Regions from separate parts of the Homo sapiens genome. Here all the other regions are linked to region 1. The links come from fine-mapping of genetic effects on gene expression. A gene starts in region 1. Each other region holds a variant in brackets. All regions are shown on one strand. Distances are from middle to middle. Region 1 holds the start of PLEKHB1 (pleckstrin homology domain containing B1). Region 2 overlaps PAAF1 (proteasomal ATPase associated factor 1). Region 3 overlaps MRPL48 (mitochondrial ribosomal protein L48). Region 4 overlaps RAB6A (RAB6A, member RAS oncogene family). Region 5 has its middle 26 kb from the start of MIR548AL.

Evidence for each region.
Region 2: its variant is fine-mapped to the expression of PLEKHB1 in blood mononuclear cells (TOPMed, PIP 0.99).
Region 3: its variant is fine-mapped to the expression of PLEKHB1 in whole blood (INTERVAL, PIP above 0.99).
Region 4: its variant is fine-mapped to the expression of PLEKHB1 in whole blood (INTERVAL, PIP above 0.99).
Region 5: its variant is fine-mapped to the expression of PLEKHB1 in whole blood (TOPMed, PIP 0.98).

Annotation. Positions count from the first base shown.
Region 1 is chr11:73,642,902-73,649,382 of GRCh38, forward strand. PLEKHB1 (pleckstrin homology domain containing B1) reads left to right here and starts at 3,680. Exons shown (of 8, transcript NM_021200.3): 1 at 3,680-3,725; 2 at 6,111-6,186. The coding sequence starts at 3,708. RefSeq lists enhancers at 3,245-4,163, 4,799-4,958 and a silencer at 4,539-4,758.
Region 2 is chr11:73,917,062-73,923,542 of GRCh38, forward strand. It overlaps PAAF1 (proteasomal ATPase associated factor 1), which reads left to right. Exons shown (of 12, transcript NM_025155.3): 10 at 1,889-1,971. It also overlaps the pseudogene ARPC3P4. Among named protein-coding and RNA genes, the nearest start is that of DNAJB13, 31 kb to the right of the region's middle. RefSeq lists a silencer at 3,451-3,663. The variant A/T (reference allele first, on the strand shown) is at 3,166.
Region 3 is chr11:73,808,232-73,814,712 of GRCh38, forward strand. MRPL48 (mitochondrial ribosomal protein L48) reads left to right here. Exons shown (of 8, transcript NM_016055.6): 3 at 82-119. Among named protein-coding and RNA genes, the nearest start is that of MRPL48, 24 kb to the left of the region's middle. The variant G/GT (reference allele first, on the strand shown) is at 3,214.
Region 4 is chr11:73,688,113-73,694,593 of GRCh38, forward strand. The region is part of intron 6 of RAB6A (RAB6A, member RAS oncogene family); the gene reads right to left. It also overlaps the pseudogene LOC268276. Among named protein-coding and RNA genes, the nearest start is that of PLEKHB1, 45 kb to the left of the region's middle. The variant C/CT (reference allele first, on the strand shown) is at 2,443.
Region 5 is chr11:74,422,400-74,428,880 of GRCh38, forward strand. No RefSeq gene overlaps it. Among named protein-coding and RNA genes, the nearest start is that of MIR548AL, 26 kb to the left of the region's middle. The variant C/T (reference allele first, on the strand shown) is at 3,632.

The DNA.
Region 1 (6,481 bases):
ATAATAGCTAAAGAGTAGAAATCACCCAAATATCTATCAACCAATGAATAGATAAATAAAACACGATATATCCATAAAATAGAATATTATTCATCAGTAAGAAGGAATGGGCCAGGCGCAGTGGCTCAGGCCTGTAATCCTAGCAGTTTGGGAAGCTGAGGAAGGAGGGCTGCTTGAGCCTAGGAGATGGAGACAAGCCTGGGCAACATAGCGAGACTCGGTCTCTGCCAAAAATACAAAAATTAGCCAGGTGTGATAGCATGTGCCTGTAGTCCCAGCTACTTGGGAGGCTGAGGTGGGAGGATTGCTTGAGCCAGAGAGGTTGAGGCTACAGTGAGATCGCACCATTGCACTCCAGCCTGGGTGACAGAGTAAGACCTTGTCTGAAAACAAAAACAAAAACAAAAACAAAAAACAAGGAATGAAATACTGATAACATGCTACAACCTGGATAAACTTTGAAAACATTATGCTAAGTGAAAGAAGCCAGTCACAAAGGGTCACACATTGCATGATTCCATTTATTTTTTAAAACTATTTATTTATTTAGAAACAAGGTCTCACTCTGTCACTGAGTCTGGAGTACAGCAGTGCAGTAACAGCTCACTATAACCTCAAACTCCTGGCCTCAAGAGATCCTCCTGCCTTCACCTCCCAAATCACTGGGATTATAGGTGTGAGCCAACTGCGCCTGGCCCATGATTCCATTTATATGAAATGGCCAGAATAGGCAAATCTGTACAGAAAGAAAGCAGATTAATTTTGCCAGGGACTTGGGGGGAAGACAGATTGGGAGTAACTGCTAAAGACTATAGGGTTTCTTTTCTTTTCTTTTTTTTTTTTTTTTTGAGATGGAGACTCGCTCTGTAGCCAGGCTGGAGTGCAATGGTGTGATCTCGGCTCACTGTAACCTCTGCTTCTCGGGTTCAAGTGATTCTCCTGCCTCAGCCTCCTGAGTAGCTGGGATTACAGGTGCGCGCCACCACGCCCAGCTAATTTTTGCATTTTTAGTAGAGACAGGGTCTCACCATGTTGGACAGGCTGGTCTCGAACTCCTGACCTCAGGTGATCCGCCACCCTTGGCCTCCCAAAGTGCTGGAATTACAGGCGTGAACTACCATGTCTGGCCTAGGGTTTCTTTTTAGGGTGATAAAAATGTTCTGAAGGCCAGGTGCGGTGGCTCACACCTGTAATCCCAGCACTTTGGGAGGCCGAGGCGGGCAGATCACGAGCTCAAGAGATCGAGACCATCCTGGCCAACATGGTGAAACTCCATCTCTAAAAATACAAAAATTAGCTGGGCATGGTGGTGCACGCTTGTAGTCCTAGCTACTCGGGAGGCTGAGGCAGGAGAATCACTTGAACCTGTGAGGCGGAGGTTGCAGTGAGCCGAGATCACACCACTGCACTCCAGCCTGGTGACAGGGCAAGACTCCATCAAAAAAAAAAAAAAAAATACCCACTGAATTTTTTACTTTAAAAGGGTGAATTTTATGGTAGGTGAATTACATCTCACTAAAATTATCACTTTGGCCGGGCGCAGTGGCTCACGCCTGTAATCCCGCTCTCAGGGAGGCAAGAGGCGGGAGGATAGCTTGAGCCCAGGAGTTCGAGACCTGCCTGGGCAATATGGCGAGACCCCGTTCTCCAGAAAAAGGAAAAAAAAAAAAAGACAAAAAAAAGCGTAAAATTATCACTTTAAAGTGTTTTCTTTTCTTTTTTTTTTTTTTTTTTTTTGAGACGGAGTTTAGCTCTTGTTGTCCAGGTTGGAGTGCAGTGGTGAAATCTCGGCTCACCACAATCTCTGCCTCCCGGTTCAAGCAATTCTCCCGCCTCAGCCTCCCTAGTAGCTGGGATTACAGGCATGTGCCACCACACCCAGCTAATTTTGTATTTTTAGTAGAGATGGGGTTTCTCCATATTGGTCAGGCTGGTCTCGAACTCCCGATCTCAGGTGATCTGCCCGCCTTGGCCTCCCAAAGTGCTGGGATTACAGGCATGAGCCACAGCGCCCGGCCATTTAAAATGTTTTCATAAGCACTTTTACTTTTGCTCAAATTGCATCTTGATATAAACTTCAAGTTTTTTAAAATAAAGATAATATAAATTATTCTCATTATATTATACTCTCTAGAAAATGTAAGTAGTAAATTTGAATTTGATGAGCCAGTCCACTATTTCCTAAACAATGTATTATCTGTGGGCTGTTCATTCACCAGGGACACTTGAAATGGCAAAATCTTTTCCTCTCTGCCAATGGTTCTGTGCACCATAGCCACAAAGAAATGTAAAAGTTACTTGTTGGCTTATTAGTCTCAATAAGTTTTAGTTGATTGAACAAACAAAGTCTCTCACAGCCAGGACTGCTGCGGCTGGAATTCCTGACATACTGTCATACCTCTCACTCGTCAATCTACACTCTCCTCCCATCTACACAGCTCTGGAAATTAAAAACAATCCAACCATGACTATCATGGCTTCAGAGGTCTATGAACTCCCAGGAATTATACGCAGATTTTTTCCTGAGGACAGTCTACACTTCCTTATTGGCTTCTCAAAGAGGGTCACTGACCAGCTTTTAGAGACATGGGCCAAGTCCGGCTACGTTTAGATTCGGTAGTAGTGTCTGTGGTTTTAGTTTGCCACGTCCTTTCCTCTTTTTTTCGTCATAGTGCCCGCTCTTTGGGAGGTAGGGGAGAGTCTTCCCCTGAAGTCTCCACTGCTGCTGGAGAACCTTCCTTTTTCATCTGGTTGCTAAATCCAGAGAATGAAATCTAGGAGATGATTGCACCGTCCCCGCCCCTCAACATGAAGGATGCCCCACTGCCCATCGGGGAGGGGAGCAGGGAGAGCTGGAGAGAGGCTGGGTCGGGGCAGGACCCAGGCGCAGATCCTCCGAGGCCAGCTGCAGCCCTACCTACCTGCCTTCCCGTCTTTCCCCTCCCTTCTTTTCTCCTTCTGTCTTTCCTTCCTTCCATATCTCTTTCCTTGCCTCTTTCCCCCTCCCACTGCTTCCTTTCTTCCTTCCACTGTGGAGGTGGAAAATTTAGCTAGGAGAAGCTGGGACTGGGACGTTCCAGGAACCAGACAGAGAGTGAGTTAAAGGCACAGAGATGAAAACGCGGTATGGGAGAGCTGGTTCTTGAGTCGGCTAAGAGGGGATGAACTCAATGGTTAATAGGATTGGCCATGGCGAATCCCTCAGCAGGGCACGCACCGCACAAAGGGCCGAGGAGCGAGGGTAGCTCGAGGTCAGGATTACAGAGACTCAGGAGCAAGAGAGGAAGGCTTAAAGAGCCAGACTGCGCAGCCAGGACTGGGGTGATGGGCGCTGTCCTGCCAGGCCAAAGAATGAAGATGTAGCCCCGCCCCCAACCTAGGGAGGAGGACCAGCCCGGTTCCTGTCCTGCCCCCGCAACCTCGCCCCGATTCCACTCCGGGAACCTCGGCGATGCTGAGCCAAGACCACTTCTGAATCAGGGATGACTTGTCTAGTGAACCTAGGGTCAGAGCCATCAGTTGGAAAGGCTGGGAGGAGCCTGGAGAAAGAGGGCGACCTTCCTTGGGATCTGTGCGCTCCCTCCTTGCCTCCCCCTCCAGCCTCCCACTTGGTAGCACCTTCCTGATCCCCTTATCTCTAAGGCGCTCAGGGAAATGCCCCGCTGCGGGAGCCTTCTGGGAAATGCTGCCCTGGCCACCCAGGAACCATGAGCCCTGCAGCCCCGGTAAGGAAGAGTTCTCTGGGACAGGAGGAAGGGCCCAGGGCAGGGTGGGCACCCTTGCCACATAGGGGACGGGACAGAAGTCTTTTAGGCCCTGACATCCTCTGGTCTCTGAATGACATCCTGTGGCTGCTGGTAGGTGAGGGTTTGCGGGGCTGAGCTATTGAAGGAAATGATCACAGTCCGAGGTGATAGATACAGAAAGTCTTCCTTTCTCCAGGTGGGCTCCCGCCAGTCCATTCTTCACTGTGCCCTAGAGGGGCCTTTCCGACCCCCTAATCACACACCTCACTCCTCATCTTGAAACTCCCACCCCCAGCTCCAGTCACTGCGTCCTAACATCCAAGCTCTCCGCCTGTCATGCAAGGCCTCTGTGCTATTTCTTTCCAAACCCTGCAGCTCTATCGCCTGACACTCCCGATGCCCTCCCCACCCCTGCGCTTTATGTTCTAGACACACGGAAATGCTGGGCACTCTTCAACATCCTGACAGTATTCATAGGGGAAATTTCGGGTCGCCTAGGAAACTGCCCCTCATCCTCCAAGGCCCCTTTCAGCCTCCTCTGGGAAGCCTTCCTGAACCCCTTGAGAAAAGTCAGGCTCATCTTTTCCATTGTTAAATCACACCTTGTGCTCCAATTGTGTGTTTCCATGTAATCTCCCTCACTAGACTGGAAGCTGGGGATGGAAAGGGGAAGCATCAAAAAAACATGCAAAACTAGGAGCTTGGCTTCTCCTTGCAACTTTACTTTTTCTTTTTTTCTAGGAACTGAGTTCAATGATTCTTAAGAAAAAGTATTTCATGATAAATGAGTGAACAAATGTCTTAATAGAAAAGTAAAATTGCAGGCGGGGCTGCTTCTGCCCAGCTCTACAGGGGTAGACTACAAGTCCCAGTACGCCTCGGGTCAGCATCTCTTCACGTCACTCCCCCTCCCTGGGGTGGGCAGGTCCGGAGGGCGGGGCCCGGGGGCAGCTGGGCTCTCAGGCGCTGCGGGAGGAGAGAAATGCCCCAGGCTCTCCGGGGCACACAAAGCGCAGGCGCAGCGGGTTGGGTGGCAGCAGCATCGAGTAGCGGCCGCTTAGGCAGCAACATCCGCAACAAGTGTAGACAAGGTGGGTGCATCAAGGGGAGGGGCTGGAAAAGGAGTCTGCACCTGACCCTCTTGTCTGATCTGTGTCAAGACCGTGGAGAGGGGAGGGAGCGGCAAGAGGAACAGACAAGGCTGGGCCTTCCAGCCCAGGTGTGCCAGCCCTTGTTACGCAGCAACAGGTGTGAGCAGGTGGGGGAGGGGCGGAGGCACCCGCTGGCAAGTGAGTCGCCCTCAGGAACAGAGGGCACCTACCTGGATTCCAGTGCAAGCTACATCATGTACATGGATGAGTCATTTGCTAACCCTCAGTTTGTCCATCTGTAAAACAGGAGTAAGGATTCCCTTCCTAACAGGGTTAGAGTGGGGACAAGGTGAGGGAGTAGAATGTGCGGTGACGTCCAAACTTAGCTGTACATTGGAATCATCTGAGGATCTTTGAAGAGTATCAGGGCTTGCCTCCTGCCCTCAGACATTCTGATTTAATTGTTACGGAGTGTGGCCTGGTATCGGAAGTTCTCAAAGCTCCTGCCGGCATAACGGTTTGAAGCCAGGACTGCTGGGTGTGAGTCTGGGCTCCATTGCTTACTAATCAAGTGGCCCCGTGCAACTGACTGGACCTTTCCGGCCCCCGTTTCCCCATCTCTGAAATAGGAATAATAAGGACTGCAGGGAGGCTTAAATGAGATAATGGATGAAAGCACTGATAGGGGGTACCCGGACAGAGTGCTCGGTCCATCACAGCTGCTGTTGAACTGCTCTTTGAAGCACTTTGTAAACAGCTCTAGTGGGGTCCAAATAGGAGGGAGCTTTTCCCTCATCCATTGCCGTGATTCTAATATTCTGCACTTCCACATTACAGAATCCCAAGGTTTCTAATACTTTAAGAGTCTCATGCTCCACCGACTGAGCTAGTCAGGCATATTCTAATGTTTCAAGAGCTCCTCCCTCCAGCCTCTGCCTGCCTCACAGACACACTTCTACAGATCTAGAAACTGAGACCAGGACAGAGGGCCAGGGAGGAGGGATATGGCCAAAGTTACCAAGCTGAGGCTGGAATCCAGGCTCCTGGTCCCCACCCCCACCCCACACCAATGGCTGCCCTGCTGACCCCACAGTGACAGTGCTCCCATTCTCTTCCTGAGCAGAGAATGGGGAGGAGGCCGAGGCCGCCTGGCCCTTGTTTACTAACCCTCCCTCAAACGTTTCCTGGGTGGCTCCCCAGGGACGGCAGGGCTGGGGGCTTCTCTCCAGGGAGCTGCTGCTGAGGCCTGTGTCTCCCGTGGCTCCTCTGACAGGTCCCGCCTGACTCCGCTCTGGAAAGTCCTTTTGAAGAAATGGCCCTGGTGAGGGGCGGCTGGCTGTGGAGACAGAGTGAGTGATCCTGGGCCCCTGGTCCTGGGGCAGGGTGAAGGAAGTGGCTTACTGGGCTTGCCACGGGGAACACTTCTCTCAAGAAACCAGGACCTTTTCATCCTTCCCTTGTTTGTCCATGCTCTTCCCTCTGCCTGAAGGTCCTTCCCATTCCCGACTACATGGTTTAAACTTCTATTTGTTCATCACGACCCATCTCAGATGGGCCCCTCTCTGAGGAGCCTTCTCTGGCTTTTCCTCTGGCCCCCACCCCTGCTCCTGCAGTAGCGTCAAGCTGGATTAGAGGCTCCCTCCT
Region 2 (6,481 bases), 270 kb after region 1:
CCAGGCTGGAGTGCAGTGGTGCTATCTCGGCTTACTGCAACCTTTGCCTCCCGGGTTCAAGCAATTCTCCTGCCTCAGCCTCCTGAGTAGCTGGGATTACAGGTGCGCGCTACCACACCCAGCTAATTTTTGTATATTTAGTAGAGACAGGGTTTCATCATGTTGGTCAGGCTGATCTCGAATTCCTGACCTCGTGATCTGCCCGCCTCAGCCTCCGAAAGTGCTGGGATTACAGGCATGAGCCACTGTACCCAGCCCTGAATGATCATTTTTAGTTCAAGGAACCCAGCTCTGTTAGTTATGTAGTTTTGATCATGACCTTTCTAAACAGGCTTTTCTTTGGCCTTAAAGATATCCAAAGAGAATCACACAATCTCTCTGTTGCAGGATTTAACAATTTCTACAATTTTGTCCCTTCCTCCTTTGATTTCCTTCCTTTTTTCAACTGATATTTATTGAAAATAGCTTCTGTGGGCATCAGGCTTGGTTCAAGGCACTGAAAACCAGAAATAAAAGGTACAGGCTCTGGGCTGGGCGTGGTGGCTCACGCCTGTAACCCCAGCACTTTGGAAGGTCAAGGTGGGTGGATCACCTGAGGTCAGGAGTTCAAGACCAGCCTGGCCAACATGGCGAAACCCTGTCTCTACTAAAAATACAAAAATTAGCTGGGCATGGTGGCACGTACCTATAATCCCAGGTACTGGGGGGCTGAGGCAGGAGGATCGCTTGAACCTGGGAAGTGGAGGTTGCAGTGAGCTGAGATCGTGCCACTGGACTCCAGCCTGGGCAACAGAGCGAGACTCTATCTCAAAAAAAAAAAAAAAAAGATACAGACTCTGCCTTTGAGGCACCTGGAGTCTAATGGTAAAGATGGACAAGTAAAAGACTGTTGTGCAGTGTGATCACTTGTCTGACAGGGCTAGCTACAGAAATCTAAGGAAGCACCAAAAAGGAGAGGGAAGGAGGTGAGACTGCTTCTCCAAGGAAATGAGAAACATTGGGTCTTGTTGAGTAGGACGTTGCCAAGTAAAGAAGGAGGAAAAGAGCTGGCCTCGGTAGAATCCCATGTATAGAATCCCATATATGAAGGCATGTGAAGGGGATTGTTTTCAGGAGTCTATGACAGGTATGTTCCCTGCATATGAGGGCAGTGGTGAGAAGTGATACCAGCAGGAAAACAGGAGCTGCTCTGACCTTACCTGCCATTCTAAGTTTATTCCAAGAGTAGGGAATAAATTCCAGTAGATGGTGACTAGCTTATACCTTTTCTTCCATCATTTCAGTTACTTAATTTTTTTTTTTTTTTTTTTTTTTTTTTTTTTGCCTCCACAGAGATAGGGAATCTCTGATCACTATTATAAAGTCACACTTACATATATATTAAATTGATTCTCACTCAGCTTTCTCTTTCTTTTTTTTTTTTATTTTTTTTTGAGATGGAGTCTTGCTCTGTAGCCCAGGTTGGAGTGCAGTGGCGCGATCTCGGCTCACTGCAAGCTCCACCTCCCGGGTTCCCGCCATTCTCCTGCCTCAGCCTCTTTCTTTTTAGAGTCCTGACAATTTTAATATTTTACAACAAATCTTAATTCTTTTGTTAAGTGAAAAGTTTAACATACTGCTAATATTGTTATCTTCAACCCATGTCATACCTACCTTAAAAACTCAGGATTTGGGTGGTGACTTAGTTCATGTTTAGAGACATGGATGGTTTTTGAATTACCTTAATCTGCCAGTTAAGGTTCTTGCCAGGAAAGAAACCATAGAAATGTTTAATCTTTCTTCACATTTTATCCTGTTTGCTCTTATGTGGTTAGTACTATATGTTGAATATAGTCAAGTATTGCTTTTGAAGAAAGAAAGTAAAATTTCCCCTTTCTCTGAATCCTAGGGCTCCGGTACAAGTCATCCACAGATCAGGAGCACCAGTTCTATCCCTGCTAAGTGTCAGAGATGGATTCATTGCTAGCCAAGGTGGGTCCATGGGCCAATTGAGAGAGATGCTTCTCTGTAGTTCAGTTAATTAAACATAGTTTTAAGTGTCTGATCTATGGCTGGGTTGGGGCATGGTCCCCCATGATTCTTTGGCATATTGTACCTATCAATAGTGTTTATCACTCTACGTTGTGATTGTCTGTGTCCCCCTCCAGTTCAAACTCCTTGAGGGTGGTGACTGTGCCTTATTCATTGTGTTATTCCCAGAATTTAGCTCAATGCCCACCACTCTTCTGCCTTAAAGGAGCTCACAGTAAGGCAGACAGACGTGTGAACATTTGATTGCAGTCCAGTTTGATAAGGACTACATCAGAAGACTGCATGAGGAAATGAAGAATAGCTAATTCTAGAGGTAGGAGTGCTGTCAGCAAGGTCTTCGTGAACTACGTGACATGTAAACTGATAAAGATTTCACCCACTGGAGATGTAAAGAGGGACACTGAAAGCTGAAGCTATTGTATATGCAAAGTCATAGATGAGGCAAGCGGGGGCAAAAGAAGAAGAGCACTAGCATTTCCAGAGGGCCTGCTATGTAGTAGGTACTGTGTTTGATGCTTTACATACATATTCTAGGTAAAGCGAGTATCTTAATGTAGCCAGGACAAACTCTTTGGAATGGAGTTCAGGAATGGTGTTGGGGAAATGCCTGGAGCAAAGTGTACATTAAGGGACACTGGATCCTTGTAGGAATGATGTAGGTCAGGAGGACTGGACTATACAGCCTGGAGGGACTACCTACCTACCTTGAGCATTTCAGTATGTCAGTTAGGATGTTTTGGGCTGTTATTTACAGAACACCCAGCTGAATATGGTTTAAACAGTTAGGAAAGGATACTGCTTCACTTAACAAGAAGTCCAGAGTCCATTTCAGATTATATTAATTTAGTGATTTGAAAATAAAGTCAACCAAAGAGACTAAGGAAACTTGACAACTAAGTCAGTGGTATTCTGGATTGGATCCAGGATGTTAAGGAAAGACTGGTGAAAAAAAAAAAGCATGCTGTTTAGGTGGTAGTAGTGTACCAATATTGGCATCTTAGTTTTGACAAATGTAAGGTGATAACATTTGGGAAAACCTGAAACTGATTAAGGGCATATGGGAACCTTCTGTATTATCTTTAACTAACTTTTCTGTAAACCTAAAGTCACTCCAAAATATAATATTTTTTATAT[A/T]TTTTTTTAATTTAAAAAACAAGTAGGCTGGGCACAGTGGCTCATGCCTATAATCCCAGCATTTTGGGAGGCTGAGGCGGGAGGATCACTTGAGCCCAGGAGTTTGAGGTCAGCCTGGGCAACATAGGAGACCCTGTCTCTACAAAAAATAAAAATTAGCCAGGCATGGTGGTTCATTTCTGTGGTCCCAGCTACTCAGGAGGCTGAGGTGGGAGGATCACTTGAATCTAGGAGGTGAGGCTGCAGTGAGCCATGATTGTGCCACTGCATTTCACCCTGGGTGACAAAGCGAGACTCTGTCTCAAAAATAATTTTTTCAATTAAAAAAATATTAAAAAGATAGTGACTGGGCGTGGTGGCTCACACCTGTAATCCCAGCACTTTGGGAAGCTGAAGCGGGTGGATTCCTTGAGGTCAGGAATTTGAGACTACCCTGGCCAACATGGTGAAACGCTGTCTCTACTAAAAATACAGAAATTAGCTGGCATGGTGGCACACATCTATAGTCCCAACTACTCAGGAGGCTGAGGGAAGAGAATCACTTGAACCTGGGAGGTGGAGGATGCAGTAAGCTGAGAGCACGCCACTGCACTCCAGCCTGGGTGACAGAGTGAGACTCTGTCTCAAAAAAAAAAAAAAATTAAAAATTAAAAAATAAGGTTGGGTGTAGTGGCTCACGCCTGTAATCCCAGCACTTTGGGAGGCCAAGGCGGATAGATCACCTGAGGCCTTGATATTTCTCGCCTCCTCTGTCCTATCTACAGGCCATTTTACTGATTATTAACATCTCTGGCTGGGTGCAGTGGCTCACATCTGTTATCCCAGCACTTTGGGAGGTCAAGGCGGGTGGATCAGCTGAGGTCAGGAGTTTAAGACCAGCCTGGCCAACATAGCGAAACGCCATCTCTACTAAAAATACCAATATTAGCTAGGCATGGTGGTGTGCACCTGTAATCCCAGCTACTTGGGAGGCTGAGGCAGGAGAATCACTTGAACCTGGGAGGTGGAGGTTGCAGTGAGCCAAGATTGTACCACCGCACTCCAGCCTCAGCGACAGAGTGAGACTGCCTCGCAAAAAAAAAAAAAAATCTCTGTTGCAAGGTGATGTGTGGGTTATATGAGGAGTGTAGGTGGAGAAGAGCTGACTCATGGTTCTACTTTTTGTACTTTTTTTTTTTGGAATGTTAGAAATTTCTTTATTATTACTTATTCTTACTAAGCGCCAGCTTAATGCTGCAGAAAATTTCAAATCACTGTTGATAACCCACTTTCTTTTCTCCCACCCAAATTCTTGATCAAGAGTTTTTCAAGTAAAGACATGGTCTTCTCTCTTCTGTATAAAACTTTATGAAATAAAGGCAAAAGATTCGTATATCTTGCTGGAAAATGCTGCCCAGGGCTCTGGAGATGGTGGCTGCCCGTGCTCCTTTCACTGTCCAGGTCTTGAAAGACTCTAGCATGAACTGTCTCTTCACAAAACAAGTCCACCACTTGCAGCGTTTATCATTCTGAGGGTCGAAAACTTTCTCACAAAGTCTCAGCCCAGTCTCTTGCCTTAGATGTTGTAAATAGGCCCTCATCACTTCATCTTCCTGTTTGTTTGCAGGTTTGGGATACATTGCATTAAGTGGAAAACCAGGTTCTCCAGGAATGGGAAAGTTAGTGATTCCCAGTGTATACATTTCTTTCTCACCTTGGCTTTTGGAATTGCACTTCTGGAGTTCCTTCAGACACTCAGAAACGTAGACAGAGATACGTATATCAAGGTCCTGTCAGCTTCATTCTTAACTTCATAGTTTTTGAAGAAGACATTGGCCTTGAACTAATAGATGGCTTCATCCACAGTATCTGTATCTTTTGTCTCTCTGGGGGCAGGTCCTTTGAATTGACTTCTGATAGGTAACAGTGCCATGTTTCCAATGAGTTCAGTGTCAGGATCCATGAGAGAAGAGTGGTAAGCTGGCATCTTGGTGGCGCCCGGGTTTCAACCCAGAGGAGCAGATTTTTTGTACTTTTCTACTTTTCTGCTGGGAAGAAGGCAAGGCATAACTTCCAGTACTGATGTCTAAAGGCAAAGGGAGTAAGATTATAACTCTGTTTTCAGAGGACAAAACTAAGACCAATAAGAGAAAGTTATCAGAAACCACATTTCAGTTAATTATAAAGGAAAAGCTTTCTTTTCCTTAAGAAAGAAGCTGCCCTTAAGGTAGTGGGCACCCCTAACTCTGGAGATGGGCAAGTGTAGGCTGTTTGGCCGCTCTGCCATGTGCTGTAGAGGGAGTTCTGTACTGGTTTAGAAGTTGGATATAGGCCGGGCACAGTGGCTCACACCTGTAATCCCAGCACTTTCGGAGGCCGAGGCGGGCGGATCACGAGGTCAGGAGATCGAGACCATCCTGGCTAACATGGTGAAACCCCGTCTCTACTAAAAATACAAAAAATTAGCCGGGCATCATGGCGGGCGCCTGTAGTCCCAGCTACTTGGGAGGCTGAGGCAGGAGAATGGCGTGAACCTGGGAAGTGGAGCTTGCAGTGAGCCGAGATCGCGCCACTGCACTCCAGCTTGGGTGACAGAGCGAGACTCCGTCTCAAAAAAAAAAAAAAAAAAAGAAGTTGGATATAGATGATTTTTGAGGTCCTTTGGAACTCTTTGATTATTAGTGAGGAGATTTAAGTTGCCAGATGAAACAAAATAAAAAACAAAATTTTTTGATGCAAATTGCCAAACATATCTAAAAGTAGACAGAATGGCACGATGAACCTGTTATACCCATTATCCAACTTAAGCTATTATCAATATATTGCTAATCTTGTTTTACCCATTCCCTTGCATTCCTCAGTCTTCATATATTTTGAAATATATCATGAGCGTCTTATTTCATCTGTTAGCATTTCTATATGTCTCTCTAAAAGACAAGGATTCATTTTTGGAGAAGGTGATTTTTAATAGTAATGCAAAAAAGGGTAAGGTACTACCTCGTATATGCTGCTGCTTGAATGTAGATTAACAGATAAATTTGGAAAACAGTTGTTCAGATTTCCAAAAAGTTTGAAAAGGTTAATGTCTGCTGATTCTTTTCCAGGTCTTTATATATACAAAGTCATAATCTTAATACAGAAAAAACTTTATGCATAAAGACATTCGTTTATGCACATGCTGTCAACCATGTAAAATAGGCACAAAAAAATAGATCAAAATGTTAACAGTAATTGCCTTTGAATGGTAGATTAGGGGTGATTTTTGTACCTCTGCTTTGTTTAGTTTTAAAGTTTTGTTCAGTGAGCATGTACTACTTCTATTTATTTATGTTTTTAT
Region 3 (6,481 bases), 170 kb after region 1:
GATAGAATATAAATTTTGCAAACTATGCAAATAAAATATGGGTTTCTAATTGTATTGAACATACTTTCTCCCTCCTTTTAGGTTTAGAACTTCAGGAGAGAAGCCCATCTATTCTGTAGGTAAGCAGTTTTTACCTGATGTAGTTGGCCTGCTTTAAGTGACCCTTTAGCACTCTATAATAATTTTGCCTAGAAGGAAGCCTACCATATCTTTGAGAACAGTGGCCTGAACCAAACCCCACCCCTCCATGTGAGCATGGAATAGAACCATGGGTGAGAACATCAAGTAGTGGCTAAGAGCAAGAGCTCTACAGTAAGTTTGGATTCCAACTGTACTACATATTTATTTGATCTTTGGCTATTTCTCTGTAGCTTGGTTTCCTCACCTTAAAAAATGAGCAGGCTGTGAGGCCGGGTGCGGTGGCTCACGCCTGTAATCCCAGCACTTTGGGAGGCCGAGGCGGGCGGATCACCTGAGGTCAGGAGTTCGAGACCAGCCTGGCCAACATGGTGAAACCCTGTCTCTACTAAAAATACAAAAAATTAGCTGGGCGTGGTGGCAGGCGCCTGTAATCCCAGCTACTCGGGAGGCCGAAGCAGGAGAATCGCTTGAGCTCGGGAGGCGGAGGTTGCAGTGAGCTGAGATTACGCCATTGCACTCCAGCCTGGGGGACAAGAGCGAGACTTCATCTCAAAAAAAAAAAAAATAATGAGAAGGCTGTGCAGCATGGTGAGACCCTGTCTCTACAAAAATTTTTTTAAAAATTAACTGGGTGTGGTGGCACAGGCTTGTGATCCTACCTACCCCAGAGGCCAAGGCAGGAGGATCTCTTGAGCCCAGGTTACAGTGAGCTATGACTGTGCCACTGCACTGCAGCCTGGGTGACAGAGCAAGATCCTGTCTCTTAAATTAAAAAAATTTAAAAAAAAGAGGATAATTGTAATACAAACTGTAGTGTACCATTTGAAGATTCAGTGAGACAAAAGATATAAAGTGCTTGGCCAGGTGCCTCACGCCTGTAATCCCAGCACTTTGGGAGGCCGAGGAGGGCGGATCATGAGGTCAGATCAAGACAATCCTGGCTAACCCAGTGAAACCCCATCTCTACTAAAAATACAAAAAATTAGCCGGGCGTGGTGGCACATGCCTGTAGTCCCAGCTACTCGGGAGGCTGAGGCAGGAGAATTGTTTGAACCCCGGAGGCAGAGGTTACAGTAAGCCGAGATCATACCACTGCACTCCAGCCTGGGCGACAGAGCGAGACTCCGTCTCAAAAAAAAAAAAAAAAAGATAAAATGCTCAAAAAGTAGCAGCTGTAATTATTATTATTATTAATACTGCTACTATTCCAGAACTGCCTTGTATGTCCATCATCAGGCTAGGGCTTTTCTCACACTGTTTAATCCAAAATGAATGTCCATTCAGTCTGATTAACTCAATGGATATCCATCTCTGTTTCAACCCAATTACTTGCCATTTTTGCTTTGTCTATTATGTGAGAAATTTCAATGGAGTTGTTGGATTTTAATGACGTTTGTCATGTGTCTGACAAGTATCAGAGATAAAGGAATGGAAGTAAGGAAGGGAACTAACATTTTTTACTCAGTGCCTACTGTGTGCAAGGAAGTGTGGAAGAGGCTTTACATATGTTAATTATTTTAGAAGATGGCGGCAATGTGTAGGGAATCACCATTTCTACTGGGCCCAAAGCCTAACATCTCAAAATAATGGGCTTCTTTTTATTTATACATTCTCTTGACAAACATGTATCTTACTAGACTGTGTGTTAGATGCTGGTGATACAAAATTAAGAGGATATAGTCCTTGCTATTTAGTAGTTTTAGAAGCTTATTTTTTCCCTAGGAATAATACAATGAACATTTCTTTACCCACTATTTAGATTCAACTTTTGTTAACATTTTGTCATGTTAGCTTCTTAAAAATCAGACATCATGATACTTTACGCTTGAATACTTTAGCTTGGGTTTTTAGAAATAAGGATATTTTCGGGCAGGTGCAGTGGCTCATGCCTGTAATCCCAGTACTTTGGCAGGCCGAGATGGGCGGATCACCTTAGGTCAGGAGTTCAAGACCAGCCTGACCAACATGGAGAAACCCCATCTCTACTAAAAATACAAAATTAGCCGGGCATGGTGGAGCATGCCTGTAATCCCAGCTACTCGGGAGGCTGAGGCAGGAGAACCGCTTGAACTTGGGAGGCGGAGGTTGCAGTGAGCCGAGATCGTGCCATTGCACTCCAGCCTGGGCAACAAGAGCGAAACTCTGACTCAAAAAAGAAAAAAGAAATAAGGATGTTTTCTTTCTTTATTTTTTTTTTTTTATTGTAATTTAAGTTCTGGGTTACATGTGCAGAACGTGCAGTTTTGTTACATAGATACACGTGCCCTGGTGGTTTACTGCACCCATCAACCCATCACCTACATTAGGTATTTCTCCTAATGTTATCTCTCCACTAGCCCCCCACCCCCCGAGAGGCCCTGGTATGTGATGTTCCCCTCCCTGTGTCCATGTGTTCTCATTGTTCAACTCCCACTTATGAGTGAGAACATCCAGTGTTTGTTTTTCTGTGGTTTTTGTAATAGTGTGGAGTGCCTGCAAAGGATATATTAAGCAGCCCATTGGATACACTGATCTTGAGCTAAAAATTTAGGTCTGAGTTGAAACTATAAATATGAAAGTCATTATTTTGTCAGTTTTAATTGAAGCCATGGGAATGAATGTGATCACTTAAGGAGAAAAGGTGGAGAAGAGACCCAGGGATCATACCCTGAGGAATTTCAACCTTAAAAATCTGGGTAGAGGGAGAAAGTCTAATGAAGCTGAGAAAGAGAGACCATAGTGGAGAAAACCTGGATAGTATAGTATCATGGCAGGCAAGAGGAGAGCGTTTCAAGAAGGAAAGAGTGGCCAACCATGTTACAGTTTCAACTGTGCTACTGAGAGACCAGGAAAAACATGAACATGGTAGTATCCTTGGATTTTAGCAATCTAGAGGTCACTGGTGACCTTAGGGAGGGTAGTCTAGGTAGGTGGGGTGGATGGGTTGTGGAAATTAACCATGAGGTGACAAGTGAATGAAAGTCCAAGAGTTAGGAAAAAAATGACTGTAGACAATGCTTTAAAAAAGTTTGAGACTGAATGGGTCAATAAAATATTGGCAGGAACTGAAGAGAGATGTAGGGTGAAGGAGAG[G/GT]TTTTTTTAAAAATTGTTTATCTCTTAATTATACTTTTTATTTTGAGAGATATAAAAAATATAGAAGAGTAAAAGAGTAATATGTCAAATAAACCCAGAATTGGCAACTATTAACATTTTGTCAGACTTTCATTGTCTTTTTTGTATTAAAACAAAAAGATCTATGTTCAAGTCATCATTATTCTCTAGCCTTGGTCTTATCCCTTATCCTTCTCAACCATAGGCAAAGTTTATTTTGAATTGGTATATATTCTGAGGAAAGTCTTTTAAAAAAATTATTAGGTTGGTGCAAAAGTAAAAATAATGGCAAAAACTGCACTTTTGCACCAACCTAATACTATTAAAATTATCACCTGTTAAAAAATTGAAATGGATGCATATGGGAAGAATAAACTTAAACTGTACAAAAGTGTATATGATGAAAAGTGAAATTTTATTGCCCTTTCCCAGTCTTTTTTTTTGAGATGGAGTCTCACTCTGTTGCCCAGACAAGTGCAATGGCGAGATCTTGGCTCACTGCAAGCTCCACCACCCGGGTTCACACCATTCTCCTGCTTCAGCCTCCCAAGTAGCTGGGACTACAGGCACCTGCCACCACGCCCCACTCATTTTTTGTATTTTTTAGTAGAGATGGGGTTTCACCGTGTTAGCCAGGATGGTCTAGATCTCCTGACCTTGTGATCCAACCGCCTCGGCCTCCCAAAGTGCTGGGATTACAGGTGTGAGCCACCGCGCCCGGCCCTCTTTCCCAATCTTAACTCCCTCATGATATCCACTGATAGCAATTTCTTGTGTATCTTTCAGGAAGATTTTATGTATATATGAAGATTTATATTATGTGTGTGTATGACTGTATCTTAATGCTGGACATTTAGGTCGTTTTTAGTTTTTTGCTGTTTCAAAAAATGGTACACCAGCCATTTTCGTATGTCTTTGTAAACTTGTTCCTGTACATTTGTAAGATAAATTCCTGGAATTGAAATTGCTGAGTCAATGCATTATGAATTGGAGATTTTGATAAGTATTGCCAGACTATCCACCAGAGAAGTTGTATTAATTTACATTTCTATTTTCCGGCCCAAACTGGGTTTTATAAAACATTTACTGTTAGCTGGAAGCACTGGCATGAACTTGTAGTCCCAGCTACATGGAAAGCTGAAGTCCCAGAATGGTCCTTTGAGCCCAGGAGTTTGAGGCTGTACCGCACTTTGATTTTGCCTGTGAATAGATGCCATACTCTAGCCTGGGCGACAGAGCAGGATCCCATGTCTAAATATATATATATATATATATATATTTATTTATTTATTTTTTATTGTTTTTGAGACTGAGTCACGTTCTGTCACCCAGGCTGGAGTACAGTGGCACGATCTTGGCTCACTGCAACCTCCACCTCCTGGGTTCAAGAGATTCCCCTGCCTCAGCCTCCCAAGTAGATGGGACTACAGGCATGCGCCACCATGCCTGGCTAATTTTTGTATTTATTAGTAGAGACAGGGTTTCACCATGTTGGCCAGGCTGGTCTCTAATTCCTGACCTCAGGTGATCCACCCACCTCGGTCTCCCATAGTGCTAAGATTACAGGTGTGAGCAACTGCACCTGGCCTAAAAAAATAATATTTTTTTTGTTAGTGAAAATTATGTCTCATTTTAATTTGTGTGTCTTGAATTTGTCATCTTTTCATATGGTTATTTGCCATTTGTATTTGTTTCCTAATGAATTGCCTATTTATTTACTTATTTTTGAGACAGAGTCTTACTCTGTCACCCAGGCTAGAGTGCAGTGGCATGATCTTGGCTCACTGCAACCTCTGCCTCCTAGGTTCAAGTGGTTCTCCTGCCTCGGCCTCCTGAGTAGTTGGGACTACAGGAATGTGCCACCACGCCTGGCTAATTTTTTTGTATTTTTAGTAGAGACAGGGTTTCACCATGTTGGTCAGGCTGGTCTCTAACTCCTGACCTCAGGTGATTCACCCACCTCGGCCTCCCAAAGTGCTGGGATTACAGGCGTGAGCCACTGTGCCTGGCCCATTTATGTTTTTTTGTCAATTTTTCTATTGGATTGTTTACTTTTTCATTTTTGATTTGTAAGAACTTTTAATATAGTTCTTATATATTAAGGAAATTAGCATTTCTCTGTTACATATGCTTGTACTTTTTCTAGTCATTTATCCCTTGACTTTATGTTTGTGTTTTCTCCATTAAACAGAAGCTTTAGATTTTTATATAGTTATGTTTATTAATCTTTGATTTCTAGATTTTGTTTCATGCTTAAAAAGGTCTTTTCTACCCTAAGATTATTTTTAAAAATCCATGGCTGGGCATGGTGGCTCACGCCTGTAATCCCAGCACTTTGGGAGGCCGAGGCGGGTGGATCACAAAGTCAGGAGATCAAGACCATCCTGGCTAACATGGTGAAACCCCGTCTCTACTAAAAATACAAAAAATGAGTGGGACGTGGTGGCAGGTGCCTGTAGTCCCAGCTACTCCAGAGGCGGAGGCAGGGGAATGGCGTGAACCCGGGAGGCAGAGCTTGCAGTGAGCCGAGATCTCGCCACTGCACTCCAGCCTGAGCGACAGAGTGAGACTCTGTCTCAAAAAAAAAAAAAAAAAAATCCTTCATATTACCTTCTGATAAATATTTTTTCTTTTCAATATGTGGTCCAGACCAGGTGTAGTGGGTTACGCTTATAACCTCAGCACTTTGGGAGGTTGAGGGGAAGATCACCTGAGCCCAGGAGTTTAAGACCATCCTGGACAACATAGGGAGACTCCATCTCTACAAAAAAAAAATAATTAGCCTGGTGGGATAGCGAGTGCCTGTGGTCCCAGCTACTCAGAAGACGAAGACTGAGGTGGGAGGATTGCATGAGTCAGACTGAAGTTGCAGTGAGCTATGATTTTGCCACTGTGCTCTAGCCTGGAAGACAGCACGAGATCATGTCTCAAAAAGAAAAAAAAAGAGTGAGGTGGGGCACGGTGGCTCACGCGTGTAATCCCAGCACTTTGGGAGGCTGAGGCCAGTGGATCACCTGAGGTCAGGAGTTCGAGACCAGCCTGGCCAATATGGTGAAACCCCATCTCTACTAAAAATACAAAAATTAGCCAGGCATGGTGATGCATGCCTGTAATCCCAGCTACTGAGGAGGCTGAGGCAGGAGAATTGCTTGAACCTGGGAGGCGGAGGTTGCAGTGAGCTGGGATTGTGCCATTGCACTCAAGCCTAGGCGACAAGAGTGAGACTGTCTCAAGAAAAAAAAAAAGTGAG
Region 4 (6,481 bases), 45 kb after region 1:
TTTCCTTTTGTGATTAATAAGTATGAGAGGAGATTCTCTGCAATTATGTATATCTCTTATCATTCTTTGTCAAATTTTCACTTTAAGGTTTTAATACCAATTGGTGATTTTTGCCCAAATAAATCATTACTGTGACTTCTGAAAAAAGATTACTAAATATCCTTTCATTGTCTCATGGTCTGCTGAACTCTGGATCTAGGCTGGGTCAGTAGGGCTGTGCAGTGCCTCTTGTGCCTGTCTCTGTCTCTTGAAGTCCTATTTACCATCTCTGGAAGGCTTAGTTTGCAGTCTCAACAGCGGGGTAGACTCCCAGGAAGAGAGAGACAGATTTGAGCCTAGTTGATGATATATAAAATACAATGAATTAGTCTCTGTGTCCATCACGTTCTGGCTCCGGAGAAATAAGAGAATTGCTAATGAGTTGGTGCCATTCTGTGTACTTTCTATATCTTGAACTCTTAAGAGATCTTGTCCCTGGGTCTTCTGCTAAGGATTTACCACCTGACTCTAGTATAGTATCACATTACAGATAAAGGAAATCAAAATATCTTACCCCCAAATAACATTCTTTTTGCCATAAATAGCCCTGCAAAGGGCCACTTTGTGAAGAGAAAACTTGCATCTGTAAAACATTTCTATTTACATAAGTAGATTTTTTCCCCTTCCAGGTTCTCCCAATCCTGAAGAGATTAACTCAGAGTCTAGCAACTTTTAAAGGTCTAAATAAGAAACACTTGCCACCAGGCAGTGGCTCACTCTTGTAATCCCAGCACTTTGGGAAGCCGAGGTGGTTGGATCATTTGAGCCCAGGAGTTCCAGACCACCCTGGGCAACACAGGGAGACCTTGTCTCTATAAAAAATTAGCCAGGTGTGGTGGTAGGCTCCTGTAGTCCAAGCTATTCAGGAGGCTGAGGTGGGAAGAGCATTTGAGCCCAGAAGTTGAGGCTGTAGTGAGCTGTGATTATGCCACTGCACTCCAGCCTGGAAGACAGAGGGAGACCCTGTCTCAAGAAAAAAAAAAAAATTGCTTCTAAGGGCAGCCACCTATGAGACTTCATTTACATCAGCGATCCCCAACCTTTTTGGCACCAGGGACCGGTTTCCTGTAAGACAATTTTTCCATGGACTGGGGTGCAGATAGTTTTGGGATGAAACTGTTCCACCTGTGATTTTCAGGCATTACTTAGATTCTTGTAAGGAGTGTGCAACCTAGATCCCTCCAATGTGCAGTTCACAATAGTGTTCATGCTCCTAGGAGAATATCATGTTGCCATTGATCTGACAGGAGGCAGAGCTCAGGCTGTAATGCTGGCTTACCTGCTGCTCATCTCCTGCTGTGTGGGTTGGTTCCTAACAGGCCACGGACCAGTATTGGGCTGTGGCCCAAGGGTTGGGGACCCCTGACCTACATCGTAATAACCTTGGTCTCCACAACCTTTTATCTTAGCCTAGACACTCCTCCTTTCTATTGATTCCAGGTCTTTAGATAACTCTTTCAACCAATTGCCACTCAGAAAATCTCTGAATCCACTTATGACCTACAAGTTCCCCTCAACCCCCACCACCACTTTGGGTTGTCCTACCTTTCCAGACCAAACCAATGTCTATGTCATATGTACGGACTGAGGTCTTATGTTTCCCTAAAATGTATAAAACCAAGCTGTAACCCAACTACTTTGGGCAGATGTTCTCAGAATCTCGACTGTGCCTCTGTGGAGGTTGCAGTGAGTGGACATTGCAACACTGCACCCCAGTCTGGGCAACACAGTGAGACTCCGTCTCAAAAAAAAAAAAAAAAAAAAAAGACCGACTCAGGCATGATCACTCATATTTGGCTCAAAATAGACCTCTTTAAATATTTTACAGTTTGGCTTTTTTTGTCAACACTCTGGAGGAGGGGAAAACTTCTTTTCACATGGTGTAAGGCAGAAAGGGTAAAAGCCTATTTCCATAATTTAATACAGCATTTAATGTGCATATAGAAAGAGCATAGAATACAAGCCCAGAAAGAAACTCTACTATTAACTACCCCATTATTACAGCTTTGTAATCTCAAGGATATTTACTATCTCTAATTCTTAGATTCATTCTAATAAAAAGGGGATACAGTTGTGAAGTTCAAAGGACACAATGATGATGCTTCTCCTTGGAATACCCTCCCAGTTCAATTTGCCTAGCTGACACTCATCCTTCAGGACCCATTCCTTGATAACTCCTTAAAAGCTTCTCTAACTCACTCCCCAGTTCCTTAAATCTTCTTCCTCCTGTCTAATAAAATCTTTTTAAAAAATACACTGTCTCACTGTGTTGCCAGGCTGGAGTGCAATGAAAATGTGATCATAACTCATGATAGCCTTGAACTCCTGGGTTCAAGCAATCCTCCTGCCTCAGCCTCCTGAGTAGCTAGGACTACAGGGATGTGCCAAGGCACCCAGCTAATT[C/CT]TTTTTTTTTTTTTAACATTTTCAAATAATTTATTAGGAATTTAAAACTGAAAATAAAACCTGGAAAAAGAAGTTACAGATGTGGAGAGAAGAGACACCGGAGGGTGGTAACTTGCTGGCTTCGAAATACCATGTAACATCTTAAAAAAAAAAAAAAAAAAAACCCAAACAAATCAGCAAACGGAATTCCAGGGTTCTGAGCCCATGGTTGGGTCCAGTGGGGTGGAAGGGTCCGGGTATGGGGGACAGGGAAGCTAAGTGTCTCTGGACTCAGCTCAAATGTGTAGAAAATTAAAAATAAAAACCAACAAAATGCAGCTTCTTTTATTAGGAAACATTAAAAAAAAAAAACCCAAAACACGAACAGCCGCATCTCAGTAACAAAGATTACTGCTTTGTGTTCTCAGGCCTGATAGGTTAAGCACCTCACACAGAAAATTAACTCTCCAAAGGCGGGGTTTTTCGGGGGTGGGGGGGCGATGCTGGGGAAGAGAGCTCAGGCCCTGGGCCTTAGAACTAGGGGACAGGGACACACAGAAAGGGGATGGCAGTGAGTGGGCCTTGGGCCTGCCACGCCAGCCAGGCCACTGTTAATGAAGGTCCAATGCCCTGAACTTCTCTTTTTTCCTTAGAAGGGGGCTCTGGGGTGAGGGGCTGCCAAGGGACTCTGGCTGTGGGGTCATCCTGGTGGGAAACTTCAGTGAGAGAATGTGGGGGTTCCCTGAGACGCCTTTTGCTTTCTCCTGGGGTCTGCCCTCGCCAGAGCATCCCCTGGGCACCCAGCTAATTCTTTATTTTTTGTAGGGATGGGGGTCTTGCTGTATTGCCATGGTCTCAAACTCCTGGCCTCCCAAAGTGTTGGGATCACAGGCATGAGCTACCATGCCCAGCACTAAAATATATACTCCAAGTAGCACCAGTAGTTCTTTCAGAGTTATTTACTGCACTGATTGTAATAGCCTATTTTTACTTCTCTATCTTTCCCTCTAGACTTTAAACTTCTGGAGAGCAAGGCTCTCATTTCATCTTTGTTATCCCAGTATCTGACATGCAGTAGATATTTTTCAAAATGTTAGCTAAAACAATAATTAAGGGGTGTGAAAACACATTAGGAAGCAAAAAGTGGCCAGGCACGGTGGCTCACGCTTGTAATCCCAGCACTTTGGGAGGCCGAGGCAGGCGGATGACCTGAGGTCAGGAGTTCAAGACTAGCCTGGCCAATATGGGGAAACCCCGTCTCTACTAAAAATACACACGCACACAAAAAAATTAGCTGGGCATGGTGGCTTGCGCCTGTAGTCCCAGCTACTAGGGAGGCTGAGGCAGGAGAAGCACTTGAACCTGAGAGGCGGAGGTTGCAGTGAGCCGAGATCACATCACTGCACTCCGGCCTGGGTGACAAGAGCAAAACTCTTGTCTCCAAAAAAAAAAGAAAGCAAAAAGTGCAGCACAAATGTTTATATTAGTGCCTTTACTTGCTGGCTGTTGGGTACCTATTGAACGTTAATTGTCAGATTAATTCTTTGGGTATAACTATCCACAATACTACTCAGCAGACCAACACAGACTTCAGAGAGCTTATTTTCATATCAAGTCAAAGAAAATCTGGCAATACTTATGCCCACTGAATCCTCCTGACCTCAAAAACAGAGCAAAAAAAGAAATCAAGGCCGGGCGCAGTGGCTCACGCCTGTAATCCCAGCACTTTGGGAGGCCGAGGTGGGCGGATCATGAGGTCAGGAGATCAAGACCATCCTGGCTAACAGTGAAACCCCGTCTCTACTAAAAAATACAAAAAATTAGCCGGGTGTGGTGGCAGGCGCCTGTAGTCCCAGCTACTAGGGAGGCTGAGGCAGGAGAATGGCGTGAACCCGGGAGGCGGAGCTTACAGTGAGCCGAGATTGCGCCACTGCACTCCGGCCTGAGCGACAGAGTGAGACTCTGTCTCAAAAAAAAAAAAAAAAAAAAAGGAAAGAAAAAGGAAATCAATTTATTCAGTTCTAATGGAAAAAGAAGTATAAAAGGGATTTCAAACTTACATGCATAAGAGGGTTACAGTGAGGGAAAACTCTGACTAAATTAGATGAACGTCAACTTGATAATAAACAAATGCCTGCCGGGCGCGGTGGCTCACGCCTATAATCCCAGCACTTTGGGAGGCGGGCGGATCACAAGTTCAGGAGATCAAGACCATCCTGGCTAACACGGTGAAACCCTGTCTCTACTAAAAATACAAAAAAAAAAAAAAAAAAAAAAATTAGCCGGGCGTGTTGGCAGGCGCCTGTAGTCCCAGCTACGCGGGAGGCTGAGGCAGGAGAATGGCGTGAACCCAGGAGGTGGAGCTTGCAGTGAGCCGAGATCGCGCCACTGCACTCCAGCCTGGGCTACAGAGCGAGACTGTCTCAAAAACAAAACAAAACAAAACAAAAAAACAAAAAACAAAAAAAGCCAATTATGAGTATCTTCAATTAAATATAAAAAAAGGATTTAATGGCTGGGCACAGAGGCAGATCACCTGAGGTCAGGAGTTCAAGACCAGCCTAGCCAACATGGTGAAACTCCGTCTCTACTAAAAATACAAAAATTAGCCATGCGTGGTGGCACACGCCTGTAATCCCAGCTACTCAGTAGGCTCAAGCAGAAGAACTGCTTGAACCTGGGAGGCAGAGGTTGCAGTGAGCTGCGATCACGCCACTGTACTCCGGCCTGGATGACAGAGCAAGACTCCGTCTCCAAAAAATAAATAAATAAATAAATAAATAAATAAAGGATTTAAGGATTTAATTAACATAAGCAAATATAATTGGAATGAATGAAAGTTAAGAGACCAAAAGATTAACCAGTAGGTACATGAATCAGAGAAATATGTGTTTAAAGAAAGCAACAGGGCCAGATGCAGTGGCTCACGCCTGCAATCCCAGCACTTTGGGAGGCTGAGGCGGGTGGATCACTTGGAGTGTAGGAGTTTGAGACCAGCCTGGGCAACATAGCAAGACTCCATCTTTTTTTTTTTTTTTTTTTTTTAAAGAAGAAAGAAAAGAAAGCGACAGGCTGGGCGCTGTGGCTTATGCATATAATCCCAGTACTTTGGGAGCCCAAGGCAGGAGATCACTTGAGCTCAGGGGTTCAAGACCAGCCTAGTAACATAGTGAGACCTCGTCTCTACTAAAAATTTAAAAAATCAGGTGTGGTGGTGGACGCCTGTAGTCCCTACTTGGGAGGCTGAAGTAGGAGGACTGCTTGAACCCAGGAGATGGAGGCTACAGTGAGTTATGATGGCGCCATTGCACTCCAGCTTGAGACTGTTTCAAAAAAAAAAAAGCTAGGTAAGAGTAATAGGTTAAAGTGATCCCACTGGCCCTCCCCCATCCTTATTTTTAACTTTGAAAGTTATTAGAAATACCTCAGGAAAGCTTTCTTGAAAGGTTATGTGTGAAGTCTTTCCCTCTAGACTAGTGGTTCTCAATACCTATGCGGTATCAGAATTACCTGGGAAGCTTAAAAACAAACAAAACTCCAGATGCTTGGGCCTCACCCTCAAAGACTGATTCAACTGATGTGGGGTGGGGCTGAGCCATTCGTGTTTTATTCAAATATCTCTGGATGATTCTAATGTGCAGCTAGGGTTAAGAACCAATGCTGTAGTAACAATTTTTAAGGGTGTGAAACAATCAAATCAAAGAAGGGAAGAAAAGACACTGAGTACTTACTCTGTTGGAATGTTTACGTATTTTCTCATTTTAATCCTCTTATTTGTGAGGAAAATGTTAATAACCCCATTTTAAACAAATCTAAGGCTAAAGAATTTGCCATAGACCAAATAAATGGCAGAGCTGAGATTCCAAAGCTCGTATTTTTTATAATACCTAAGCTGCCTAGTATAAATGGAGTATTTTTTATATGGAAAGCACTGTGAAAGGGCTATGTGAAGAAACAGCTAATAATCTTGGGTAAGAAGAATTTGTTTTGTAAAATACTAGTACACATAAATGACAGACACAAAAAGCTAATCCATTTTTTTACGACAAAAATTTTAGGC
Region 5 (6,481 bases), 780 kb after region 1:
AGGATCTTTCAGCTTGTTGCTTGTCTTTTCACTTTCTTTAACGTGCAATCTTGGTTCTTAACCTCAGAACATACACAATTTATTTAACCACTCTCCTACAGATGGACGTTTTTACTGCTTCCAATATTTTACCATTATAACAATGGGACCTTAGATATTCTTGTATCTATATTTTTGGGAACATGTGAGAGTATCTACAGGAAAAACCCCTAGAAATAGAGTTAATGCTGACAAGGGGTATGTGCATTTTAAGTTTTGACAGATACTGTCAAATTGCTCTCCCTAGGAGCTGTGCTTATATTCCTACCAACTGTGAGAGTGCCTCTTACCCTACATTCTCTCCAACATTGTAAAAAATGGTCATCTCGATTTGCATTTCTTTTATAGTCAGTGAAGATGAGTTAAAAGCCCTTTGACATAATATTTTTATACTGTTATGATACAAACTTATATGCAGGAAAAATGAATAATGTTGGAACAGGTGCATCAGTCTTTTATCTGCAGGGTGAATATACAACCTTTGTGTAGATTTTTGTTTATTACTTGTTCTTTATTTTGGGCCTATAAAATGTAAAGTTGGACGATGATGATTAGAGGATTTTCATAAGATCATTGGCTTTGGCGCAAATCCAAGCACATTATGCAGGTAGTTTTAAGAAGCCTTTGAACTCATGTTTTTTTCCTTCTTTCAAGCATATCATATTTATTATAATGTATCAGGTAGAATAATGGCCTTCCAAAGATGTCCATATCCTAATTCCTGGAGCCTGTGAATATGTTCCCTTACATGCCAAAAGGGACTTTGCAGATGTGATCAAGTTTAGGATCTTCAGATAAGGAGCATTATCCTAGATCATCCAAGTGGCACCAGTGTAATCACAAGGGTCATTAACAGCAGAAGAAGGAGGAAGAAGAGATCAGAGAATGAAATATAATGATGGGAGCAGGGCCAGAGTCATGTGCTATGAGAACCTATCATTGCTGGCTTTAGAGAGAGAAGAAGGGCCCATGAGCCAAGGAAATCAGGAAGCCTCTAGAACTCGGAAAAAGCAAGGAAATGGATTCTCCCCTGGATCCTTCAGAAGGACTTCATCCCTCCTGACACCTTGATTTTGACTCTATGAGACCCATTTTGAACTTCTGACCTCCAGGCATAAGATAATAAATTTGTATTGGGTTAAGTTATTGAGTTCATGGTAATTTGTTACAGCAGCAATGCACAACTAAAACATATAGAAAATAAACAATATAAGCAAAATAAAGAAAATAAAAACTTTATGTGGTCCTTTCACCCAGAGAAGTATTATCAGTATTTTGGTATGTATCTATGGTTTTGTGCTTTTTTTTTTTTGAGACAGAGTCTCGCTCTGTCACCCAGGCTGGAGTGCAGTGGCATGATCTCGGCTCACTGCAACCTTGGCCTCCCGAGTTCAAGCAATTCTTCAGCCTCAGCCTCCTGAATAGCTGGGACTACAGGCGCGTGCCACCATGCCTGGGTAATTTATATATTTTTCTAGTAGAGACGGGGTTTCACCATGTTGACCAGGCTGGACCGGAACTCCTGACCTTGTGATCCACCTGCCTTGGCCCCCCAAAGTGCTGGGATTACAGGTGTGAGCCACCACGCCTGGCTGGTTTTGTGTATTTTTAAATTACACAAATAATTTTATACTTTATGCTCTTTTTGTAACTTGCTTGTCTCAGTCAAAATTACATTTATGGGATATCTTTATGTTGATAATGTAGCTCTCATTCATTTATTTAAAATTATGTATAATATTTCATGATAAGAATTCACCATGTGCAGCTGCTGGGAACCTGAAGGTACTGGGTAGGTGCAGGCTGAGCAGACAGGGCTCTGGATGGGTTCCCAAGCAGTGAGGAGAGATGGATCAAAACTACAGACCAACGATTCAGGCCTGGGGAGAGAAGGAAAATAGTATCAAGACAGCATCATTAGGTGACATTATAGAAAATGGCACAGTAGGGTGCTCAAAGAATTGGTGCTTCCACTGAAACAAACATAAGCTATCAAAGACTGACAGAATCAACTTTTTGGGACCCTGAAATATCCAAAACTTACAGGAACCAGGGGAATGCTTAATAAGGAAAAGGGCAGTTGACTTTTGGTAAGAGAGCACTATGGCTTTTTTTTTTTTTTTTTTTTGAGACAGTGTCTTGCTCTGTCGCCCAGGCTGGAGTGCGGTGGCGCAATCTCGGCTGTCTGCAACCTGCGCTTCCCGGGTTCAAGTGATTCTTGTGCCTCAACCTCCTCAGTAGCTGGGACTATAGGCATGCGTGACCACGCCCAGCTAATTTTTTGTATTTTTAGTAGAGACAGGGTTTTGCCATTTTGGCTAGGCGGGTCTCGAACTCCTGACCACAGGTGATCTGCCTGTCTCGGCCTCCCAAAATGCTGGGATGACCATGCATTCCCAGGACCATGTGCTTGCACAGCCAGGCATGGTGGCGGGCACCTCTAATCCCAGCTACTTGGGAGGCTGAGGCAGTAGAATGGCTTGAACCCGGGAGGTGGAGGTTGCAGTGAGCTGAGATCACATCATTGCACTCCAGCCTGGGCGACAAGAGCAAGACTTTGTCTAAAAAAAAAAAAAAAAAAGAAGAAAAGAAAAGAAAAGGCCTTAGAGGATCATAGGCTTGGCACCTCTGGAAGATCTGTGGGCTCCATGCATACAGGAAGTAAAGGCAAAGGCAGACCTGTAGGTGGCCTGGTGTAGGGGTGAAAAAAATGTCCCCACTCACAACCAAGATGCAAAGACCAGAAGAGTAGTATTTTTTTCTCTTTTTGGCTCTGAGTACTTAAGGAAATCTTTGTTAGGTCACTTCACTAAGCACTGAGATAATGGAACAGAGGCTTTGGTAACTGCACATGACAAGGAATACACTCTTTCCAAAAACAGTTTGAAAGCATCATTAAATAAATGGATGGCTACAGTCCTCAACAATTAACAACAGCAAACTTGGGGAAGGGGGAATATCTGACTTCCAGAGTTACCACATTAATCACATTATATTATTTAAATGCTCAGTTTTGTGTGTGGGTTTTTTGTTTTGTTTTGTTTTGTTTTTTTGAGTCAGAGTCTTGCTTTGTCATCCCGGCTAGAGTGCAGTGGTGCCATCTCAGCTCACTGCAACCTCTGCCTCCCAGATTCAAGCAATTCTCATGCCTCAGCCTCCTGAGCAGCTGGGAGTACAGGCATGTGCCACCATACCCAGCTAATTTTTGTATTTTTTGTAGAAATGAGGTTTTGCCATGTTGACCAGGCTGGTCTTGAATTCCTGGTCTCAAGTAACCAACCTCCCTCGGCCTGCCAAAGTGCTGGGATTATAGGCATGAGCCACCACACCCAGCTGCAAACGCTCAGTTTTCAACAAAAAATTACAAGACATGCAAAGATAAATCAAAGAGTGGCCCATTTAAAGGAACGAAATAGTTAGACAGAAACTGTCCCTGAAGAAGCCCAGACATTGGACTTAGTAGACAAAGACTTGAAATCAACTGTCTTAAATATGCTCAAAGAGCTAAAGGAAACCATGGACAAAGAATGAAAGGAGGCCGGGCGCAGTGGCTCACGCCTGTAATCCCAGCACTTTGGGAGGCCGAGGTGGG[C/T]GGATCACGAAGTCAGGAGATCGAGACCATCCTGGCCAACATGGTGAAACCCCATCTCTACTAAAAAAACAAAAATTAGCTAGGCATGGTGGTACGCACCTGTAGTCCCAGCTACTCAGGAGGCTGAGGCAGGAGAATCGCACCACTGCACTCCAGGTTGGCTATAGAGCTAGACTCCGTCTCAAAAAAGAAGAAAAAAAAAAGAATGAAAGGAGGCCAGGAAAACAGTGTGTGAACAAAATAAGAATAGTAATTAAAAAAAAAGAGTCATATAAAGGAACCAAATGGAAATTTTAGAGCTGAAAAGTATAATAACTGAGGATAAAACTTATTAGAGGGGTTCAACAGCAGATTTGAGCAGGTAGAATACTCAGTGAATTTAAGAGGACAGTTAAAATTATCCTATTTGAGGCGCAGAAAAAATTAACCTCAAGGTATCCAGTCCTTTATTGATAGACACTCACACTGTTTCCAACTTTTCCCTAATAATAAGCTATGTTACATTGAACATCCTTGTGCACCTTGGGCATATATGCAAGAGTTGCCTTAGGACAATGGTTCTTAACCTTAGCAGCATATTAGAGATTAAAATTTAAACACCTGATTCACATTTCCAAGAGATTCTTGTTTAATTGGTCTGAAGTGGAATCTGAATTTTTTTTTTTTTGAAGCAGGATCTTGCTCTGTTGCCCAGACTAGAGTGCAGTGGTGAGATCATAGCTCACTGTAGCCTCCAACTCCTGGGCTCAAGCAAAATCCTCTTGCCTCAGCGTCCCATGTAGCTGGGATTAGAGGCAAGAGTCACTGCACATGGCTATCAGTATGTTTTTTAAAAATTTCTTTCAGGCAACTGAGAACCACTCAATTGGGTATATACGTAGATGTGGGATGATCAGGTCACAGGATAGGCACGTCTTCACTTTGGTAATACTGATAAATTGTCCTTCAAAATAGTTGTATCAATATACACTCCCAATGACAACATATCAGAGTTCCCATTTCCCCACATTCTCACCAACACTCTGTGTTTTTATTATTTGCCAATTTGGATGAGTGCCAAATTGTATGTCATTTTTGTTTTAATTTGTATTTTCCTGGTTTTTAATGATGTTGAGCATTTTTGTCATGTATTTATTGGTCTTTGGGGTTCCCTCTTCTGTGAATTGCTTTTTTAAAAACATCTCTTGTCCATTTCATAATTGTCATTTATCTTTTTCTCATTGATCTGAAGGAATTATTTATATATTCCGGATATAATCCTTATTGCTTTGTTGTTGGCAAATATCTTTTCCCAATTTATGACTTGTCTTTTCGCTTGGTATTTGTAACATACAGAAGATTTCAGTTTAATATAATCAGATTTAGCAGTCTTTTCCTTTCGGTTTGTGCACCGTGTTTTCTTTTAAAAAATACTCTCTTAATTCTAATATCATGAAGACATTTTTAATATTTTTGTGATAGAATATTATAATAATGACTCCAGTGAATCACAGCATCCTGTATGCACATTCTTATGTAGTTCCCGCCCACATTGACTCTGGACTTGGCTAAATGAACTCTGTGACCTGCTCTGGCCAAGCCAACTTTGATGTAAATTGATGTAAGCAGAGATTTGAAAAGTGCTTGTGCATTGAAACTTGCATCTTGCATCTCAGCCACCTTCAGGCTTGCCTGCTGGAGACAGTGGCCTAGTGAATGGCCAGCACCAGCTGCCAGACATGTGAATGAGGCTATCGTAGACCTCTCTGGTCAAGCTGATCCTCCCAATGACTGCAGCATGGTGAAAACACTATAAGCAGCACCCAGCTCAAATTTCTGACCACAGAATTGAGAGCAAATAAAATGGTTGTTTTAGCCACTAAGTTATGGGGTTGTTTGTTACGGAGCAATAGCTAAATAATACAATTTTCTTTTTTTTAGAAAAGAAACCCTTCTTCTTAAGTTTTGCTTCTCAGACTTGGATTTATAATTCATCTGCAATTTATTTTTGAGTATGGTAAGAGACAGGGGTCTTATTATATATATTATACATATATAAAAATTTCATATTTTTTCATAAGATTAGCCTATTTTTCTAGCACCATTTATTAAATAATCAATTTTTCCATTTGAAATGCTATTTTTTTTTTTTTGAGACAGGGTCTTACCCTGTCACCCAGGCTGGGAGTATAGCAGCACTATCTTGGCTCACTGCAACCACTGCTTCCCCAGTTCAAGTGATTCTCCTGCCTCAGCCTCCTGTTAGCTGAGATTACATCGTGTGCCACCACGCCTGACTAATTTTTGTTTTTTGTTTTAGCAGAGATGGGGTTTCACCACGTTGGCCAGGCTCGTCTCAAACTCCCGACCTCAAGTGATACGCTCGCCTTGGCCTCCCGTGGTGTTGGGATTATAGGCGTAAGCCACTGCACCCGGCCTGAAATACTACCTTTATTATACAGCTAGTTCTAACACATCTTGGTCTTTTTCTAGGTTCTTTGTTTTATTACTTATTTAGCTATCTCTGCACCAATACCACATTGCTTCACATATTACGGCTTTATACAGTTTTCATATCTAATAGGAAACTTACTAATATGCCTATCCAATATGTCGTCTTTTCTCCCATCTTGATTAACGGAATATCAATTTTATTTGGTGTAGCCGTGTCTTCAGCTCCAGGCAATGGATCATGATCAGACTAACCTAGGGGTCAGCAAACTATGGTCCATTGGCCAAACCCATTTTACTCCTGTTTTTGTGCAACCCATGAGCTAAGAATTGTTTCTACATTTTTAGAAAAATATGATGTGAAAATTATGTGAAGTTAATAGTTTAGTATCCACAATAAAGTTTTATTGTAACACAGCT